4 linked regions of the Homo sapiens genome follow. The protein of the gene in region 1 interacts with the protein of each later gene in a biochemical or structural test. Each region holds a gene or a part of one and is shown on either strand. Other genes may lie near its edges.

Region 1 (3,057 bases):
AGCAGAACTCTCCCTTCCTACCACAGGCATCGCAATACATGACAAAAGCTATATTCAACCATTCATTTTGGACCAGTTCACTGCTGCTTGCTATGTTGGCTTCTGCATGAACTCCTTGGGATTTTGCATGAGAAAATTTCAGAATTAAAAGGAAAAAATGTGATGGAATTTATTACAGATGGATACTTTAAATCCTTTTTGAAAAAAGGTAAAGTATCGATCAATGTAGCAAGCAACAGAAATATACAGCCAATTCATGAATGATGTAGTAACCTGACAAGCAAATATCAACAAGACTGAGAAAACTGTTTACTTAGGCCAAAAAAGCCAATGATCTTTCCCATGTAATGCCACTGCTTTTAGATTCAAGTTTCAAAAAAGTCCTATTTGGGGCATTAAAACTTATACTTCCAAAAATAAAAAAAGTCGATGAAAACTGCAGTTTTGAAAAACTAAGTTAACCCCCAGTAATAATCTATTTCAAATTAACACACAGCCTATATAGTTGGAAAAAGAAAAGATTTTTGGATATATATTTTATTTGACAGTGTTTTAGAATATCATACAGTAAACAAGATTTCTGTAAAAGTTAATTTATCCATAGTGGTACGTTTCATAAAAATAGTTGCTCACTTACAGTCTTTCTGTGACTATTAATACATGGAATTATATTTATAGAGATACAGCTGTACAGGGTAAATTCACAGCTAACACTACACAAATATTATTTGGAATGGGATTTAGATGATGTGCTGTCTTCACAGGTTATGGATTACAGCCGCATAAAGCAATTACTGCACAAGTAGTAGCTGTGAACTGTGCAAACTAGAGTTTATGCCAGTGTAATCTCAATTTTTTTTTCCTTTTGTAATACATGGAAAATAAAGTCAGAGGATACAGTACCAGGACGTGCAGCTACACTACAGAAGCATTGTCCAAAACCAGATTCAATAAATTAATGGCAAACTATACTGGATTTCTAGTCCAGGGGAGAAAGACTAATTGAGATTAAACCAAAAGCATTATAAACTGCTACAAGTGTTTGTGCTTTTGTTTACGATGAATGGGTTTCATTTTTGGAAATTGCTTTTACAAGCTGCAAGATCCTTCACTTGAGGCTTTCAGCCTTATTCTCCTCCTGTCAAACAACTAAACTACTCCGATGTTTGATGAAAATTAAACTGCTACTCAGGATACTGCAATTACAAGGAGAGGGAATGATCAGCCCAGGGAGGCTATTACGTGTGACCTTTGAGATGGACCTGATCGCCCCTTTTACTTTTTAGACTACAAGTGCAGGGAGGTGGAGCTTATTTGCATTTGAACTCCTGTAAAGAGTAAGAATATGGAAAGGATGAAGCCTCATTCATTCGGGCATATTAAAAAGAAATTGCCTTCAGAAACACTTTGCCTTTTAATATGTGTAGCTACAGTAAGTACCAATGGCTAATTAATTGAAGCTAACATTTTACAAAGAAATGCTAAAACAGCAGGGAAGAAAGGCAAGACTTAGAATTTTACTAGGAGGTCAATCATAGATCCATGAAGATAAACATCTAGAAGTTGCTAACAAAATAAAGTGGCAAGGAATACAAGACGAAAGAAAACTAATGGAAACAAAAGGACAAAGGGTAAGGAAAGAAGGATAAGCAGAAAGGAATGCTAAAAAGACTCACGTTCTTTAATGAAAATAAATTGATTGTAATTTTTTAATATTATAATCTGAGAAATATAAGACAAATACTCTGCCTCTGCTCTGTCAAAGTGCAAATGAAGTCATGGAGACAGGGTTTAAAATAAGACAATAAAATAAGTGAAATCACATTGCTGACAAAGAAGCTATCCATCTCTGCTAGCCTGGGACGACAGAAAAGCCTCTTCATAAAGGAACTGCAGCGTTGCCTATCTTGATTAAACAAATTGTGGTCCTTCAATTATAAAATTCATATTTTAGAGAAAAACCAATTAAGATCTATGAGCTAAACTGCAAAATTCTGACTTATGGCAAACTGTTCCCTAGGATACAATTTTTAAAACCTTTTTTTTCTACCACTGAAAATGTACAGAAATATGATTTGATCACAGAAAGGGCAATAAAAATGGCATCACACCAAGAAACTCACTAGATTTCTAAGTCATCCTGCAGGAGGCAGGGAACGCTGCTGCTAACACCGAGGATGGATGCCAAGGGTGAGCCATGGAAACATGTCATGGGTGAACGGTTCCGAATGTGTCAAAGAAACCCTTTAACCCCTGTCTAGATATGTCGAGAACAATTTATTTACAACGCTTTAGATCAATTAAAAGATATAATCTTGTCTCAGTTTCAGCTTGCTCCGTGCAGTTTGATTTTTAAGGCGATATTCCAGTTTGTGATTGCTCTTAACTTTGTCCTGTTTCTTGATATAAAGTTTGGATGACATCCAAGTCCTTCATGCAGTGGGGAGGAATATTTTTTTTTCTTAAACTAAAGCTACACTGCACTGTCTCTCTGTGATGTTCTTCACGTTATTTTGGTTCTTCCATAGCTGCCAAAGCCCCCACAAGGGAACCGGGGGCTTTAGGATCAGTTTAGGTCTGCGCGTTGATGCGATGCCGCCCAAGCACACCGGACACGTGGGACTTCACGTCGATGCTCCCAGGCCTTGGTGCCTCGTGGATCTATGCGTGTGACAGTGAAAATAAATTAAAACGCCGTGAGACGGAACCTAAGAAGAACTGCCTGCGCCGGGGCGGGCGGGTTGGCCGTGGCCGCGCGGCTCATCTGCTGGCGGCCGAGGCGCCGGGTTTGAGGACGCTGGGCAGCTTGTCAGAACCCGGCACCTTCCAGGGCCCCGGCGCGACGGCGGCCTTGCGCGCCGGGGCGCCCCCCGGGGGTCGCGGGCCCGGCCGGGGACCCGCGCGCGCACCCGCCCTGCCCTCGGCCTCCAGCGCGCCGCTGCCGCCGCCGCCCGGGCCGGCAAACGCCGGCGCAGCCCCCGGGCCTTCGCGCCGGCAGAGCTCGGAGCCCGCCGCCGCACGGGGCGCCTCCTTCCCGCCCGCCCGCGCCGCGTCCGC
Region 2 (3,500 bases), on another chromosome or scaffold:
CGGGACAAAAAATATGGATGGTTGCATCTGTAGTGAACATGTGCAGACTTTTTCTTGTCATGATTCCCTAAATAATATAGTGTAACAATTATCTACATAGCAAGTTTTGGTCGAAGGAGAGAATCCTTGTCACATGAAATTATTCTTGCCAAAAATTAGTTAACCATGTATAGAGATACTGCTGTCATCAAAGACTGAATCTCATGGTGTAATCCAATAATCAAATACATCTATGGTAGTAAAACCTAAGGTAATTAAAATACTTTTATTTAAATTTTATTTGGATTAATGCGGGACTCCAAATATTGAGACTGTGTTCAGTATTCCAGTCCCGGAACATTAGAAGTGAAGAGTTGCTGTCTCCTAAAAATTCACAGCACATGGAAATAATTACAGGACAGTGACAAGTGTCTCAGGCAGAAGTCCTTGACTCTGCCTGTAGAGACTGGGAAGGGTTTTCTGGAAGAGGTGCCAGTTTAGCTGAGGGAAGGAGAGGAACCAAGAGGCCCTCATTCATCAGCGAATTATGTACAAGTTTTTCAATCTAACTAGAAGAGGTTGCGGTGCTGTAATGAGATACGAAGCTAGAAGAATTCACAGGGGGCCACATTAAAAAGGCCTTGAATGCCATGATAAGGAATTTTTTTTCTCTTATCCTGTAGATGAACATTTGCCAAGCCTACTTCTGATGATGTAAGTTTAGAGACACACTATGCGATATCATATGACTCCTAGAAGCTCATTTTTAAAAAGCAGTTTAACGTTTTGTGATTGAAAGTTTTCCAGACTTGTTTCATCATAGAACTAGTTTTTATTTGAATACCAATTAACACCATAGAGTTACTTTTAGAAATGTTAAGGATTTTGAGCAAGGGAATGGTGAGATTTGCATTTGTATAATATGGGTATGATGAGAATCAAGAAATCCCATTGAGTTTAAGTGTGTTAAATATATGGGACATTGGCCAGGCATGGTGGCTCACACCTGTAATCCCAGCACTTTGGGAGGCCGAGGCGGGTGGATCTCTTGAGGTCAGGAATTCAAGACCAGTCTCGCCAACATGGTATATTAAAATCCTGTCTCTACTAAAAATACAAAATAGTGGGTGTGGTGATGTGTGACTGTAATCTTAGCTACTCCGGAGGCTGAGGCAGGAGAATGGCGTGAACCCGGAAGGCAGAGCTTGCAGTGAGCTGAGATCGCACCACTGCACTCCAGCCTGGGCAACAGAGCGAGACTCTATCTCAAAAAAAAAAAAAAAAAAAGTGGGACATTAAAAGTAAAATATTCACATTGGGAGCTGGAGACTAAGATTCTAAAATAAGATTGTTTCTTCATTGAGTATTTTGAGAAAGGTTTCATCTGAACTTCATGTTTATCAAAACAATGTATGCGTAGCATTTAAAAGGTCAAGTAGTTCTATAAGACTTAATAGCAAGTTCCCTGCCACATACCAAATTTTTGGCTCCCAAAGGAAACTGTTTTAGCTGCTTCTTTTACTTAGTTATGTACCTTTATATCTCTGAATCACATAATTCTGGTGCTTTTTGATTTTTTTAATATAAGGCTTTAACTACTGACTTTCATTAATGAAGGTGAGGACTTAGTGCTTTCACAAGCATATAGACCACATTCACCGCATATACCTTCATGCTCACTACCTATCCCATCATCTGCCAGCAGAGTTATATCATAATTTAGATTTGATCAATATTCAGTCCTTACTGTGACTTACTGTGACTGTAAATGCTGTTTCAACCTGATCTGTGTGGTCTACTGTAATTACTTTTCCTTCCTTACACAGCTTTTTATGTTCCCTATAATTTGTTGTCTTTTACTTGCTTTCTTTTAATTTTTATTTGGTTTGTTTGAATTTTTTTGGCTTAGTTTTTCTATGTACTTAACTAATTCATCCCCAAATTCTCTGTTTCATACATCAGAGACCTTTAGCACTCTTACCAATTTTAGTGTCTAAGAGATACGTCTCTCAGCATCTTTCAACATGCTTTAATCTGCACTCGCTGTTTGCTAGCCTTGCTGCACAGCTGTCTTCTTGGTCTCCATACCTGAGGATTTTCTTTATTCTCCTTTGTGTTGGATCTTGTACTTCATGAATTCAGTGGCATCATCTTCTTTGGTTTATTCCCTTATCTGGTGGAGTCATCTTCTCCAGCTGCTTCCTGAGAAAGGGTTTGTCTTTGTCCATTTTGTATTGTGATAACAGAATATCTAAGACTTAATAATTCATGAACAATAAAAGTTTATTTGACTTGAGGTTCTGGAAGTGAGTAAATCCAAGAGCCAGGGTGCCAGCATCTGGTGAGGACCTTCATGCTGTGTCATGTCATGGGAGAAGGGCAAGAGAACACCGCAAGTGAGCACAAAAGCAAGAGGGGGTCAAACTCACCTTTATAATGATGTCACTCTTGATAATGAAACCACTCCCAAAATAATGATATTAATCCATACATGAGGGCAGAGCCTTCATCATATCACCTCTGAGTTTCCATGTCTGCACTTGGTTGATTAGAGATTATGTTTCCAACACATGAATTTGGGGAACACTTTCAGCTCGTGGCAAGGTTCGTGAGGTTAAGCTTTTTGATAATTTTTTAGTGAATCCTACTCCCTTCTAATTACTGCCTTGTCTCTCTGCAAAGATAACCAGTATCCTGAAGATTATTCCTTTTGCCTGTTTTTGAACTTTGTACAGAAGAGTCATACATTATGTGTTGAGTTCATCTTCTTTATTCAGCATTATGTTTGTCAGATCATTTATGTTAATATAGTTGTAGTTCACTCATTTTATTAATCCACAATTTATTAATTACCCCATTCTCCTGTTGATGACATTGTTATTAGTTTGAAGCTTCTAAATGCGTCTTCAGTAGACTTTCAAGAGATCTTCCTTTTTTTATTCCTACCTTCACCCCTACTTCCAGTGCCACGTAAATCTGCCAAGTCTGGAGCTGACAGGGGGGTTCTGTTGTTGGGGGGAAAGGGGGCTACTTCTACTTTCTCTACACTTGGATTAGGATTCAGCTTTCTTGTGTCTGCTGAGTTACTTACCATTTGGCTGTCTGCTTTCTAGCCTCTAAGGTTTTATGGGTTTTTTGTTTGTTTGTTTGTTTTTTGGTAGAATCTCCTTTTCCTCTAACTTTGTCTTCATAGAGTTTGTTTGCTTTTTATTAACAGATACCTTTTTGTGTGGCTTTTGGAAGGAACTTGGGTAATGTCTTTGTTCATTCCTCCATTTTTAACCCAACTTGAACCTTATTTTTAATACTTCATTCTTTGTTTGATTTCTGCTAAACCAGAATGTCTTTCCTAGTAATATCTTAGAATAACTCTGTTACCTTCTTTTAGTGTAAATTTAAGTAATATTTATTAGGTATAATGGTAAACTTTTTGTTTATTAAGTGTGTATTTTTTGACTATTTGAAAGTTATACTTAAAACATTTAGTCTAATTCACAAAATTTTTTTTAACAGGGTATTGC
Region 3 (4,011 bases), on another chromosome or scaffold:
TCTCCAAAAACACTGTACTACCTTGTCTACCAGGAGCTGGTTTCTCAGCCAGTTGGATAAGGGATTGTTTCAGCAAGGAGACTGATGGCCTCCTCAGGGAAGGAGGGACGGGACAGGATTTGTTCTTGTAACAGCATTCAAGGAGTCAGCTGGGTGCCTCAGCTGTACTCAGAGAACACCAGTCAGGCCATCCTGGGGCTGGCAGGGCAGAGAAAGGCCTAGGGGTTGGGGCTGCTGCGATTCAACAGCTCCCAGAGGCACTTGACCTGCTCCCTCGCCTCACGTGGAGGTGGATAGAGGTAAACTTTCCAGGCAAGGAGGGTCAAATTCTCAGCTTTCCTATCAGAACGAAACTGTCCCAGCCTCAGCCCTTGTCTGGCTAAAGTAGGTCACCTCTGTCCCTTCCCGTACAGCCGTCATCAGAACTGGTGTTTATGCACCCTCGTGGGTAGATCCTGGGAATGCATGTCCAGCTTGGTCCCCGGCATGAGGTCTGCGCTCGACAGTGCCTGCCCTGCGCCTGTTCTGGGGAGCTCAGCCCAGACCGGGCCTCCAGCTCCCTTCCCGCCCGGCAGGGGCCCCGGGCCCGGAGATGGCCACGCCACGCTGCCTTCTCGGGTCTGACTGTCCTGATCCTGCGCAAAAGTGGGGCTGCACTCGGCCTAACGAACGGACGAGGAAGCCCCCGCCGCACTTGGCTTATTAGTTGGTGGACCGGAGGGGCAAGGAGGGGATGCCCGAATCCTGCACTGAGTCTCTGAGGTCCTTAAAGAAGAACAAAAGTGCTAGTCACCGCCCACTAAACTCACGTTGCGATCTAAAGTTTAAAAACTCGGCCACAGACGACGACACAGTTTCAGGGAGGGCGCGCAGAAGGTCGCCCGGCCGACAGGAGCTGGGACCCCAGTTTGCTGATTCACGCCTTAAATTGGGCACAGACCCCACCCACAGATTTAACTTCCTCCAACACAAGCTAAATCCAGGGCCACGTACCCAGGGCCCGCAGGAGGGACAGGACGAGGATGGTGCCCACAGCGCGCTGGAGGCACGCCAGAGCCTGGAGGGGCAGGCAGGGGCGGTGGAGCGGGGCCGGAAGTGAGGCTAGCGGAGCCCCGCAGTGGCGGCTCGCGCTCATTGGCCGGGAGCAGCGCGGTGGGCGGGACGGAGCTCGGCGGTCTGCGCTCGGTTGCTAGCCGTTTGCTCCCGCTTTCAGTTGCTTTGCTGTTAGCCTGTTGGACCTTCGAGCCTAGCTGCTCGCACAGGACTCGGCCACCTGCCCTTCCTGCACCGACTGGCCAGGTAGGTGGCTGTAGGGGCCGCGGGCTGCAGGTTCCCGGGAAGGATAATGAGAGAACCGAGGGCCTCGAACCGGCTGCAGGTGGTGGGGAGGGAGTTTCGTGGACCTGGACGCCTCTGTTCCTTGAGAAGGCTCGCTCCCTCCTCCGGGAGCTCCGAAGGCTCGGGGTCAACCACCTGGGCCCCCGACCCCGGTAGCTGGCTCAAGGCCCGCCACTACCTGGTACCTCTGCAGGAGTTCAGAGCCTCATGCTGAGCCAGGAGGAGCTCCGGGTGACGCATACGGCAGGATCGGGATTGAGAGGCTGAAAAAGTGAGTTTAACAGTAGAGAAAGCAGGACCTGTCCCGCAGGCTGCTGTTCTGGCTTTTCTTTCCCACTACCTGCTTCAGTCATTGCCAGCTGTCTGGTATTCTCCTTGGCCCCTAAAGTTTTGCCCTAGCCTGGTTCTGGTTCCCTTGAGTTTGGAGCAGGAGGTGGAATGTGGAGGGTCCTGGGTGAACTTGGACTATTCCTTCTCTAGGTTTCACTTATCTCGTCTGCTTGGGGGTAGGGGGTTCTCCGGATGATCTCTGCAGCCCCTCACTGTCTGTAACTGAGCATCTCTCCCCTGGGGCAGGTGTCCTGGTAGTTCAGTAGCCAGCTCTGATCTCAGGTAGCCTGTGCTCATTTACAAAGAGTCAGAAGACAGAGCACTGGACTTAGAGCCAAACAGACACTTGGTTCAGCCTGGGAATAGCTGTGTGACTTTGGGCAGTCACCTCATTTTTCTGTGCCTTGATTTCACATTGGTAACATTGGGGAGTTGTAATCTGAGTGTGAGACCTCTCCTGACCACTTTATGTAATCTTGTACCTGACCGACACCCTCTCATCCCTCTGTGCTTATTTTACAAGTTTATTGATCAACTCTTATCCCTACTAGAGACAAGTACCATGAGTGCAGAGATTTTTGCTTATTTATTGCTGTATTCCCGCCTCTAGAACAGTGCCTAGAGTGTGGTAGGTACTGTCAACCTAAATAGCAGAGTGAGAGACTCTAAAAAAATGATGTTTACTTGGGAATAGACATTGTAGTGACAATATGTGTGCCATAGTAACCTGTGTACGTATTTGGGGAGGTAAAGGAAGACAAAGGTTTTGAAAAGGAAAAATGAGGATTACATGATTATTTTGAGATAGTTATCCTTGGCTACAAGGATGAATAGCAAGAGTGGTGCTAGTCTGAGGTTGGACAGGCAGTTGCAGGGCAGATGTCCTCACAGAAAGATTTTTCTGTGTAAGTTTGCAGTGGCCTTTGTGCAGGGTTGTGGTTTTTGCATTTTTTGTGATCTTGTTATCAGTCATTTGTGCATAAGAACCCTCTTTTCACAACCTTCCTCGGTTTTATTTGTCAGAGTTGTTGTTCTTGTTTTTTCCCATTGGAGAATCATGCTTTAAATTTGTCAGAGTTTTTAACACAAACGACTCTGTTTTGATTCTAACAACTTTCATATTTCCCCCTTTTGGTCAAGATCTTTCTCCAAAAACTTTACTGATCAGTCATCCTGTAGTTAGGTCCCTCAGTGCTGGGACGGACCTATCTTGGGTTGTTGGTCTCTTGCCATGTTGGAGACTAGGAGTCTCCAGTTGGAGACTGGTGACTAGGAGTCAGTGTCAAAACCCTTGTAGTGGTTGGGAGCAGGGGCTCACGTCTGTAATCCCAGTACTTTGGGAGGTCAAGGAGGGAGTATCACTTGAGTCCAGAAGTTCAAGACCAGCCTGGGCAACCGCCAAGGCGGGCGGATCACCTGAGGTTGAGAGTTCGAGACCAGCCTGACCAACATGAAGAAACCCGTCTCTACTAAAATACAAAAATATATATAAATAACATCCGGGCGCGGTGGCTCACACCTGTAATCCCAGCGCTTTGGGAGGCCGAGGCAGGCGGATCATGAGGTGAGGAGATCGAGACCATCCTGGCTAACACGGTGAAACCCCATCTCAACTAAAAATACAAAAAATTAGCCGGGCGTGGTGGCAGGTGCCTGTAGTCCCAGCTACTTGGGAGGCTGAGGCAGGAGAATGGCGTGAACCCAGGAGGCAGAGCTTGCAGTGAACCGAGATCGCACCACTGCACTCCAGCCTGGGCGACAGAGCAAGACTCTGTCTCAAAAAAATAAAAAATAAAAAAATAAAAAATAAATAAAATAAAATACAAAAATTAGCCGGGCGTGGTGGCACATGCCTGTAATCCCAGCTACTAGGGAGGCTGAGGCAGGAGAATCGCTTGAACCTGGGAAGTGGAGGTTGCGGTGAGCCGAGATCGCACCATTGCACTCCAGCCTGGGCAACAAGAGCGAAACTCCGTCTCAAAAAAAAAAAGTTATCTGGGCATTGGTTGGGGAGTGTGCGGGAGTCAGTTGGGTAGAGGATCACTTAAGCCCAGGAGTTTCAGGTTATAGGGAGCTATGATTGTACCGCTGCACTCCAGCGTGGGTGACAGAGCGAGACCCTGCCTCAAAAAACCCCAAATACCTTTTAGCCACATTTGAGCAGCAAGGGAGGTTTGGAAGGAGTGGCTCTCAAGGTATGTCTACCTGGAGTTCATTGTTAAGTTCAATTTTGGCTGTTCCATAGGCATTTGCTGTCATTGCAAACTTCTGGGCCAGCATTATTCTGTCAGGAGTGATACTTCAACAAAAATTTAAAAAGTAATAGGTATAAAGTTTAAAAAG
Region 4 (3,500 bases), on another chromosome or scaffold:
ATGCTTTCCACAAATAATCTATAAACTAGATGTTGAGAAGCGGACTATATAAACATATTCATGATTGCATGTTTAAAATGCAAGGCATTCTAAAGAGCAAAACCAATCAAAATCAAGGCCCATTGTAGTTTGCTTTTTAAATATCCATTCTAGAGATTTTATATCAATTATATTAAATATGGATTTCATTTGCATTTTGAATAAAATCATGTTTAGGAATTTTTTTTGTATAACAGCTACACATTAATATTCTAAAATTATTTTTTGAGGAAAATGTTTTAACTTTGTCCCAAGTCAAGTTAACACTTCATTGCCTTGACCTCTACCTGAATGCTAAAGGAATTTTTGTACTATTAATAATTTATTAGAACTTTTCAAGTCCTACTTCTGTATTTCTCACCTTTTTTGTTATTAATATGTATTATTGACTTCCTGGCTTCTACTGACTTTATACCCCAATAGGTACAGATAACATAATATGCAGAGATACTGAGTCAATGCACGGCAAATGATAACCAAAGATCAGTGAGCATATATGACAAAGCAAGTAGAGTAAAATGTTAATGGTAGAATCTAGGTGGGTATATGAGTGTTCACTATAAAATTATTTCAACTTTTCTGTGTTTGCAAAACTTCTTATAATGAAATGGAGGGAAGTCGCCTAGTTAATATCTCTGCTTTCAAGAAATACAACAATCTAAGGAAGTTATGCGCTGATTTTTTTCCTAAAGTTATTAAAGAAGACAAGAAAGTGGAAACTGAATGAGGTCCCACAGGAGGGATAATACCTTTGTCCAATGAGACTCCTGAACAGCCAAACAGGAAAATGCAGAAACCATTGGCTTGTGCCCCAGTCTCCCTTGGGTCAGCTGGTGGTTGCTAATGTTGCCCACAATCAGATGGGGGTCATCACAGATGTCCTATGAATACAATAATTGGTTATATGAGAGTCTGGGAAGAGTTTCTCAAGAGTCACTGTGAGCTGAACTAGGCAGGACAGCCTTCATAGAGGAGATAAGGTTAGGGTTGAAAAATAAGTAGGATTTCCATAGATGGGATGAAGGGAAGGCTGAGGGGATTATAAGGAAAACCAAAAAACAGTTGATCATCTAGCCCCATGTTTGGAAGTGGCAGGAGAAATGAAAGGAGAGGGTGTCATGAGATTGGGTGCCATGCGGTGGTGAGGGCTCTTAGACATAGCTATCATTGGGGTTTGGGAGAGTTTTCACCACAGCAGTGAACTTTCCAAAAAAATAATAACTAGGAATTAGTACATTACATTCTGATCCTATTTTGCCAGGATGAGATTTTCTGAAGCACCTGTGCTTGGAAGGGAGATTGTATTAAAGAGACAAGGTCTAATGAAGGTTAACATTAATTCATCTCCTTCTCTAGGAAAACCAGTTAGGAGACCTTATAGGAAGCCCTTTTCTAACATAAAGCAAAAGCAACAGTGGTCTCCATAGCAACCAGATTTTTCTACATTTGTGGATGAATATAGATGACAGCAGCATTAATAGCAAGTGGTAATAAACCACTCACAGGAACACTTCAACCGACACTCTTCCCAGTGAAGGTCCTGAGGGGATCTGGGCAGAGTGGGGGCAGTATTTGTTTGGAATGTATGTGTGTATCTTCCCCCCAACATATTAACTGTGCCTTTCCCACTGGGAGTAGGAAAATGATACCTAAATGATACAATTATAACACAAAGCGATAGGGCACAGTAGAGTCATTTTCAAAGCATAATTCATGTCTAAAGGAAGAATCCCCATAATTCTCCTGATCACAGTCAGAATAGGATTCATAGTGTTGTTAACACTGGAGTTGACTAGAATTAGGCAGTTGGACAAGAGAGGGGTACGGTGGCATAACAGGTAGAGAGAAAGGCATGGGCAAAGGCATTGTGGCATACATGACACTACATAGTTGAAGACATAATTGGGTGACTCAGAGTATCAGCATTTGAAGAGTTCAAAGGCAGGAAATACCAATGCATTCTTGACTAGATGGAGAAAGCTTCACGAGGAGGCCATTGGCCGGTACCTTGACATTCTGCTTACGCAGCAGAAATAAATCCTTGTCTCAAATGGAATCTAGACATATATCCTTTTAAAAAGTATTAGAGACAGCTATATTTTTCTGGTCCTCAAACCTCTTTTTTTAATGGCCATAATTCTCCTTGACGAAGGGTCTGGTCTACAGAATGAAACATTCCATATATTCTTTAAAAGCCAAAATAACTCTGGAAAGAAATAGGCAGGCATTCTGGGCAAAGACAAGTCCAAGCTGGAGATTAACTGGGCATCCCTCTGCCAAAAGGAGATGGCTAGATAGGTTGTCAGCTTTGGATTCTCAGGTCTTTTTTTTTAGATGCATGCCTGGTAGTTCACAACTACTTTTTGTTTTAGGAGAATTTTCTATCTTAAAAAATATTTTTTATGGGCTGCAAACTGCCTTTGTTTTCACTTGTTGAACATAGAGCAGGTATGTTGGGTAAGTCAAACCCTGATGTTCTTTTTCTTCTCATTTTTTTGGCCTTTTCTAAAATGAAACTAAGCACAGTTTTTCCTCCCCAGGTCAGGTGTTTTCATTTTATTTTGAGCAAGATGTCAAAGTATAAAATAATTTCTGGCCAGGTGTGGTGGCTCTCGCCTGTAATCCCAGCACTTTGGGAGGCCGAGGCAGGTGGATCACCTGAGGTCAGAAGTTCAAGACCAGCCTGGTCAACATGGTGAAACCCCATCTCTTCTAAATATACAAAAATTAGCCAGGCGTGGTGGCAGGCGCCTGTAATCTCAGCTACTCAGGAGGCTGAGGCAGGAGAATCGCTTGAACCCGGGAGGCAGAGGTTGCAGTGAGCCGAGATCACACCATTGCGCTCCAGCCTGGGCAACAAGAGAGAAACTTCGTTCCAAAAAAAAAATAATGATTTATTTGACCTAGATAATACATATCATAGTTTCCTAACATGGAAAAACAATAAAGTGAACACTGATATATGAAAAAGTGTGCTTTTAGATTAATAAGGCAAATTATTTGCTAATTTTATGTAGAGTTATTAGTGGTTGGAGATACATTATGGTGTCTTGAATTTCCATAAAATTTTCATTTCACAGTAGGTATCTAGGCTTAGCCAACACTTTTGGCATGTCAACTTCTATTGAAGACATAAAGGGTCACATAAGTGAGCAAAAAGACATATAAACAATTCAAATTGAGGAATGGGGTAATTATTCTCTTCTTGACCCAAGATGGATATGATTATTATATATTATATGTGTCTATGTATATACATGTATGTACATATAATATATATATTAAAAGCTGTGTGAAATTCATGAGAGAATGTAAATTTGGGACCCCCCCCCCCACAACATTCCATTTCCTCTTATAAACTGGCCCATTCTCCAGTTATACTTTACCCCTTTTCATACGTGATGGCTATTTAACAATAGATTTAAAACATGACAAGTTAACAGTCATAGAATGTCAAAACT

The links.
Region 2: the proteins of MAGI2 (region 1) and ATP2B1 interact in a test that uses a peptide from one of them, tested with the Homo sapiens proteins (one large-scale study listed by IntAct).
Region 3: the proteins of MAGI2 (region 1) and CCDC134 interact in a test that uses a peptide from one of them, tested with the Homo sapiens proteins (one large-scale study listed by IntAct).
Region 4: the proteins of MAGI2 (region 1) and CAPN6 interact in a test that uses a peptide from one of them, tested with the Homo sapiens proteins (one large-scale study listed by IntAct).

The regions. Positions count from the first base shown.
Region 1 is NC_000007.14:78,016,555-78,019,611, forward strand, and holds the end of MAGI2 (membrane-associated guanylate kinase, WW and PDZ domain-containing protein 2), read right to left. Parts: coding exon 2,761-3,057; 3' UTR 501-2,760; downstream 1-500. UniProt on the Homo sapiens protein: Seems to act as a scaffold molecule at synaptic junctions by assembling neurotransmitter receptors and cell adhesion proteins. Plays a role in nerve growth factor (NGF)-induced recruitment of RAPGEF2 to late endosomes and neurite outgrowth.
Region 2 is NC_000012.12:89,604,339-89,607,838, reverse strand, and holds part of ATP2B1 (plasma membrane calcium-transporting ATPase 1), read left to right. Parts: intron 1-3,492; coding exon 3,493-3,500. UniProt on the Homo sapiens protein: Catalyzes the hydrolysis of ATP coupled with the transport of calcium from the cytoplasm to the extracellular space thereby maintaining intracellular calcium homeostasis.
Region 3 is NC_000022.11:41,799,468-41,803,478, forward strand, and holds the start of CCDC134 (coiled-coil domain-containing protein 134 isoform 1 precursor), read left to right. Parts: upstream 1-1,211; 5' UTR 1,212-1,299; intron 1,300-1,531; exon of another isoform or gene 1,532-1,609; intron 1,610-4,011. UniProt on the Homo sapiens protein: Molecular adapter required to prevent protein hyperglycosylation of HSP90B1: during translation, associates with nascent HSP90B1 and the STT3A catalytic component of the OST-A complex and tethers them to a specialized translocon that forms a microenvironment for HSP90B1 folding.
Region 4 is NC_000023.11:111,253,484-111,256,983, forward strand, and holds part of CAPN6 (calpain-6), read right to left. Parts: intron 921-3,500; coding exon 789-920; intron 1-788. UniProt on the Homo sapiens protein: Microtubule-stabilizing protein that may be involved in the regulation of microtubule dynamics and cytoskeletal organization. May act as a regulator of RAC1 activity through interaction with ARHGEF2 to control lamellipodial formation and cell mobility.